Linked DNA regions of Homo sapiens. The protein of the gene in region 1 purifies or fractionates together with the protein of each later gene. This does not show direct contact. Each region holds a gene or a part of one and is shown in the gene's direction. Other genes may lie near its edges. The genes, in order: ABCA1 and IGSF3.

Region 1 (2,651 bases):
TGGCCAGGATATTCAGCATCCTCTCCCAGAGCAAAAAGCGACTCCACATAGAAGACTACTCTGTTTCTCAGACAACACTTGACCAAGTAAGCTTTGAGTGTCAAAACAGATTTACTTCTCAGGGTGTGGATTCCTGCCCCGACACTCCCGCCCATAGGTCCAAGAGCAGTTTGTATCTTGAATTGGTGCTTGAATTCCTGATCTACTATTCCTAGCTATGCTTTTTACTAAACCTCTCTGAACCTGAAAAGGGAGATGATGCCTATGTACTCTATAGGATTATTGTGAGAATTTACTGTAATAATAACCATAAAAACTACCATTTAGTGAGCACCTACCATGGGCCAGGCATTTTACTTGGTGCCTAATCCTATTTAAATTAGATAAAAAAGTACCAAATAGGTCCTGACACTTAAGAAGTACTCAGTAAATATTTTCTTCCCTCTTCCCTTTAATCAAGACCGTATGTGCCAAAGTAAATGGATGACTGAGCAGTTGGTGATGTAGGGGTGGGGGGCGATATAGAAAGTCAGTTTTTGGCCGGGCGTGGTGGCTCATGCCTGTAATCCCAGCACTTTGGGAGGCTGAGGAGCAGGCAGATCATGAGGTCAGGAGATCCAGATAATCCTGGCCAACAGGGTGAAACCCCGTCTCTACTAAAAATACAAAAATTAGCTGGGCATGGTGGTGCGCACTTGTAGTCCCAGCTACTTGCGAGGCTGAGGCAGGAGAATTGCTCGAACCCAGGAGGTGGAGGTTACAGTGAGCCAAGGTCTCGCCACTGCACTCCAGCCTGGGGACAGAGCAAGACCCCATTTCAAGGGGGGAAAAAAAGTCTATTTTTAAGTTGTTATTGCTTTTTTCAAGTATTCTTCCCTCCTTCACACACAGTTTTCTAGTTAATCCATTTATGTAATTCTGTATGCTCCTACTTGACCTAATTTCAACATCTGGAAAAATAGAACTAGAATAAAGAATGAGCAAGTTGAGTGGTATTTATAAAGGTCCATCTTAATCTTTTAACAGGTATTTGTGAACTTTGCCAAGGACCAAAGTGATGATGACCACTTAAAAGACCTCTCATTACACAAAAACCAGACAGTAGTGGACGTTGCAGTTCTCACATCTTTTCTACAGGATGAGAAAGTGAAAGAAAGCTATGTATGAAGAATCCTGTTCATACGGGGTGGCTGAAAGTAAAGAGGAACTAGACTTTCCTTTGCACCATGTGAAGTGTTGTGGAGAAAAGAGCCAGAAGTTGATGTGGGAAGAAGTAAACTGGATACTGTACTGATACTATTCAATGCAATGCAATTCAATGCAATGAAAACAAAATTCCATTACAGGGGCAGTGCCTTTGTAGCCTATGTCTTGTATGGCTCTCAAGTGAAAGACTTGAATTTAGTTTTTTACCTATACCTATGTGAAACTCTATTATGGAACCCAATGGACATATGGGTTTGAACTCACACTTTTTTTTTTTTTTTTGTTCCTGTGTATTCTCATTGGGGTTGCAACAATAATTCATCAAGTAATCATGGCCAGCGATTATTGATCAAAATCAAAAGGTAATGCACATCCTCATTCACTAAGCCATGCCATGCCCAGGAGACTGGTTTCCCGGTGACACATCCATTGCTGGCAATGAGTGTGCCAGAGTTATTAGTGCCAAGTTTTTCAGAAAGTTTGAAGCACCATGGTGTGTCATGCTCACTTTTGTGAAAGCTGCTCTGCTCAGAGTCTATCAACATTGAATATCAGTTGACAGAATGGTGCCATGCGTGGCTAACATCCTGCTTTGATTCCCTCTGATAAGCTGTTCTGGTGGCAGTAACATGCAACAAAAATGTGGGTGTCTCCAGGCACGGGAAACTTGGTTCCATTGTTATATTGTCCTATGCTTCGAGCCATGGGTCTACAGGGTCATCCTTATGAGACTCTTAAATATACTTAGATCCTGGTAAGAGGCAAAGAATCAACAGCCAAACTGCTGGGGCTGCAAGCTGCTGAAGCCAGGGCATGGGATTAAAGAGATTGTGCGTTCAAACCTAGGGAAGCCTGTGCCCATTTGTCCTGACTGTCTGCTAACATGGTACACTGCATCTCAAGATGTTTATCTGACACAAGTGTATTATTTCTGGCTTTTTGAATTAATCTAGAAAATGAAAAGATGGAGTTGTATTTTGACAAAAATGTTTGTACTTTTTAATGTTATTTGGAATTTTAAGTTCTATCAGTGACTTCTGAATCCTTAGAATGGCCTCTTTGTAGAACCCTGTGGTATAGAGGAGTATGGCCACTGCCCCACTATTTTTATTTTCTTATGTAAGTTTGCATATCAGTCATGACTAGTGCCTAGAAAGCAATGTGATGGTCAGGATCTCATGACATTATATTTGAGTTTCTTTCAGATCATTTAGGATACTCTTAATCTCACTTCATCAATCAAATATTTTTTGAGTGTATGCTGTAGCTGAAAGAGTATGTACGTACGTATAAGACTAGAGAGATATTAAGTCTCAGTACACTTCCTGTGCCATGTTATTCAGCTCACTGGTTTACAAATATAGGTTGTCTTGTGGTTGTAGGAGCCCACTGTAACAATACTGGGCAGCCTTTTTTTTTTTTTTTTTAATTGCAACAATGCAAAA
Region 2 (3,826 bases), on another chromosome or scaffold:
CCAGTCACTGTGCTAAACACTTTACATAGCATGACCTTCTGTATAAAATTCTTGAAGACCATCTGTCATGTTCATTACTGTAGTCCCAGAACTCAGCCTTGTGCCATGCAAAGTAAGCAGGTGTTCAGTTATTTTATTTTTTTTGAGATGGAGTCTCACACTGTTGCTCAGGCTGGAGTGCAGTGGCACGATCTTGGCTCACCGTAACCTCCGCCTGCTGGGTTCACGCGATTCTCCTGCCTCAGCCTCCCGAGTAGCTGGGATTACAGGCACACACCACCACACCCGGCTAATTTTTTTGTATTTTTAGTAGAGATGGGCCTTCACTATGTTGGCCACACTGGTCTCAAACTCCTGACCTCGTGATCCGCCTGCCTTGGCCTCCCAAAATGCTGAAATTACAGGCGTGAGCTACCACACCTGGCCCAGTTAATTTTTTGATGAGTGAATGGTTTCACAAGGTAGGTGTTGTTTCTGTGTTGGCTTCCTTGATCAAGATAAGGAAATTCATGACACTTTTCCCTTGAAAACAATTATGTTCAAAGGAAAAGAGCTGGAATTTGGCAGAATCTGAATTTGAATTCACATTTGTCTGATTATAGAGCTTCTTAACCTTTTTTGTGTTATGGATCCTTTTGGCAGTCTGGTGAAGCCTATAGACCCCATCTGAGCATAACATTTTAAAATGCATACGTGGCCGGGTATGGTGGCTTACGCCTGTAATCCCAGCACTTTGGGAGGCCAAGGTGGGTGGATCACCTGAGGTCAGGAGTTTGAGACCAGCCTGGCCAATTAGCTGGGCGTGATGGTGTGTGCCTGTAATCCCAGCACCTCGGAAGGCTGAGGCAGGAAAATCCCTTGAACCTGGAGGTTGCCATGAGCTGAGATTGCGCCACTGCACTGCAGACTGGGCCACAGAGCAAGACTCTGTCTCAAAAAAAAAAAAAAAAAAAAAAAGAAAAGCATACATAGGCCAGGTGTGGTGGCTCACTGCTGTAATCCTAGCACTTTGGGAGGCAGAAGCAGGGAGATCACTTGAGCTCAGCAGTTCAAGACCAGCTAGGCAACATAGTGAGACCGCATCTCTATCTACAGTTTCCTGCAGAGATCGAAGTAAAGTTCAGTGTAGGTGGTTGTTGCTGGGGAAGACACTCAGGAAGAGGACATGGGCTGAGTGTTCAGAAATGGTCAGGATTTGATGGGGAGGGCATTCTACTCCCAATTAAGTCCTGATAATGCAAAGGCCTCAGCAGGCCTTTTACAGATTGGAGAAATGACTGTCAGTGGTTTTAAGGACCAGTTCAGGTGGGATGATGCTGGACACAGAAAATTGGTTTGAATTATAATGAGTTTGGGATTTAGGCTTAAAGTAAGTCCCCAGAGCCCAGGCCACTGCTGCTGAGCCCCAGCCTGGGAACTGGAGGAAGCAGTCCCAGTTGCTGACCTCTCGTGGTCCCTGGCTTTGGGTGTGCAGTGCATCCTTAGTTATGACTCCTTGATTAATATTTTTAGCTTCTGGCCGGGCATGGTGGCTCATGCCGATAATCCTAGCACTTTGGGAGGCTGAGGCAGGAGGATCACTTGAGCTCAGGAGTTTGAGACCAACCAGCCTGGGCAATATAACAAGACCTCATCTTACTAAAAATCAAAAACATTAGCTGGGCATGGTGGTACACACCTGTAGTCTCAGCTGCTTCAGAAGTTGAGGTGGGAAGAATTGGTTGAGCCCAGAAGGTTGAGGCTACAGTGAGCTGTAATTGCACTACTGCACTCTAGCCTGGGTGGCCCCCATCTCACACACACACAAAAAGAGCGAGACCCCGTCTCAAAAAAAAAAAGGGAGTTCCTCATTTGCCATGAGTGGACACCTGCTTCTTTACTGCTTCAAAGTGAACACAGCTATTCCTTGTAAAGGGTTGGTTTTTACTTTAAGGAAATCTAGAACACCTGTGTGTGAATGCCCCCTGATTTTCAAAGAAATGAGTGGTTGCATCAAAATCAAGCTTATATTTGTGGAAAATCACATGTTGCCAAATTCTCTCATCAAGAACCCTTTATTAACTGACTAATTGTGGGCCATGGTGGCAGGCACTTAACAAAGACCATGGCAGCAGACCTCCCTCAACTGGAACCCTCAGTTAAGTGGGATTTTGTTTTTATTTTTGAACTCCACCTTCAGAAGGGCAAAAATCACAAGATGTGGTAGCAAGGGTTTATTCTAGAAATTAGCTTCCAAGCAGTCGTCAGCCCAGTCTGTATGTCTTCCGCATCTATAATTATAGTAGCAGAAGAGAATGGTGAGCCTGGGGCACTGCAAGATCCTAAATCAAAGATTAAGGCATATTAACTCTACCCTGCCTGGAAAGTGGTCAGTTGTATTTTAAAAAGCTTTACAATAGGCTTTCTAATAACGAGAGTTGAAGCAAAGTTTCCACCTAACCCTGTAATTAAATTCACCAGAAGACCCCATTTCCCATTATCCAGACGACCAAGGCTTTGCCGAACACCACCCGTCCCTGCCCTCTAGGAGAGGTCATCCAAGGCCAGCAATGAAACAGTCAATCAATTTGCAAATGGACAGGAGGACACTGACAGGATGTGTTCACTGAGGGTAGGTGTCTACTGGGGGAGAGAGGCCAGGCAAGTCTGTCCTTGTTTTCAGTTTAGCAGGAGGAGTGAAGGGGAGGCCAGAGTAACTCCTGAGTGGTCAATCTGGAAAGGCCTTTTGGAAGGGCTGGAATTTTAGGCATTTTTCTTAAGTAAGAGGAGAGTGACGTCCTGTTGGAATTGTGGGGTAGAGGATATTCTGGGCACTTCTAAAGGGGTGGAGAAACCTGAATGTCCTGGGATGGGAACCCTAAGGGTGTAGATTTGTAAAAATTGCTGCAGTCAGTTGCCATGAGGACTGGGTATCTGGGCTAGAGACAGGTGGGCGACATCAGAAAGCTGTGAGTGGATATCCTGGAAGACCACTGAGAGGAGGAGCCAGGAATGGCACCAGACATTTCTGAAGGTGGGGGGCCCAGAGGTCGAAGCAAAGGGGGGCCTGTTTCTGTACCAAAGCAAGAGCTTCTGTATATCCATCAAAACATAATCAGGCCAGGCGTGGTGGCTCATGCCTGTAATTCCAGCACTTTGGGAGGCCGAGGCGGGTGGATCGCTTGAGGTCAAGAGTTCAAGACCAGCCTGACCAACATGGTGAAACCCCATCTCTACTAAAAACACAAAAAAGCCAGATGTGGTAGCGGGTGCCTGTAATCCTGGCTACTTGGGAGGCTGAGGCAGGAGAATCTCTTGAACCTGGGAGGCGGAGTTTGCGATGAGCCGAGATTGCACCATTGCACTCCAGCCAGGGCAACAAAAGCAAACAAAACAAAACAAAACAAAAAACTCCATTTCAAAAAAAAAAAAACCATAATCAGAGCAAAGACATTCTAACAAAACTGTGAACTCGGAGAAATGAGTAATGCCTGCTTCCCGTCAACTTTCAGGTGTCCAGGCCTTCTCTTTATTAAAACAGAAAAAAAAATCTGATACCAGTTGTGTGTTCTTTCTTTGATGTAGTGCAGTTTGCCCAGGCTTGCCTTAAGTTGGTGCTATTTTTGTGTATTTAATTCTGTTTTTGCATGTGACCCATTGTCTGATGCTTCAGAATGCAGTCTGCGGCCTCCTTTTTGATAGCAACTCTGAGAACACTGTCTCTGCTCTCGGCAGGGCACTGGGTACACCTGTGGCATCGCTGGTGCCATGGCATGAGGCAGGCTTCCCACTTCACTTCTCAAGGACCCATTTTATTAACTCTCCTTCCCCCAGGAGCTCCGTATTT

The links.
Region 2: the proteins of ABCA1 (region 1) and IGSF3 fractionate together in Homo sapiens (co-fractionation; one large-scale study listed by BioGRID). This does not show direct contact.

Annotation. Positions count from the first base shown.
Region 1 is NC_000009.12:104,782,831-104,785,481, reverse strand, and holds part of ABCA1 (phospholipid-transporting ATPase ABCA1), read left to right. Parts: coding exon 1-86; intron 87-1,026; coding exon 1,027-1,167; 3' UTR 1,168-2,651. UniProt on the Homo sapiens protein: Catalyzes the translocation of specific phospholipids from the cytoplasmic to the extracellular/lumenal leaflet of membrane coupled to the hydrolysis of ATP.
Region 2 is NC_000001.11:116,657,611-116,661,436, reverse strand, and holds part of IGSF3 (immunoglobulin superfamily member 3 isoform 2 precursor), read left to right. Parts: intron 1-3,826.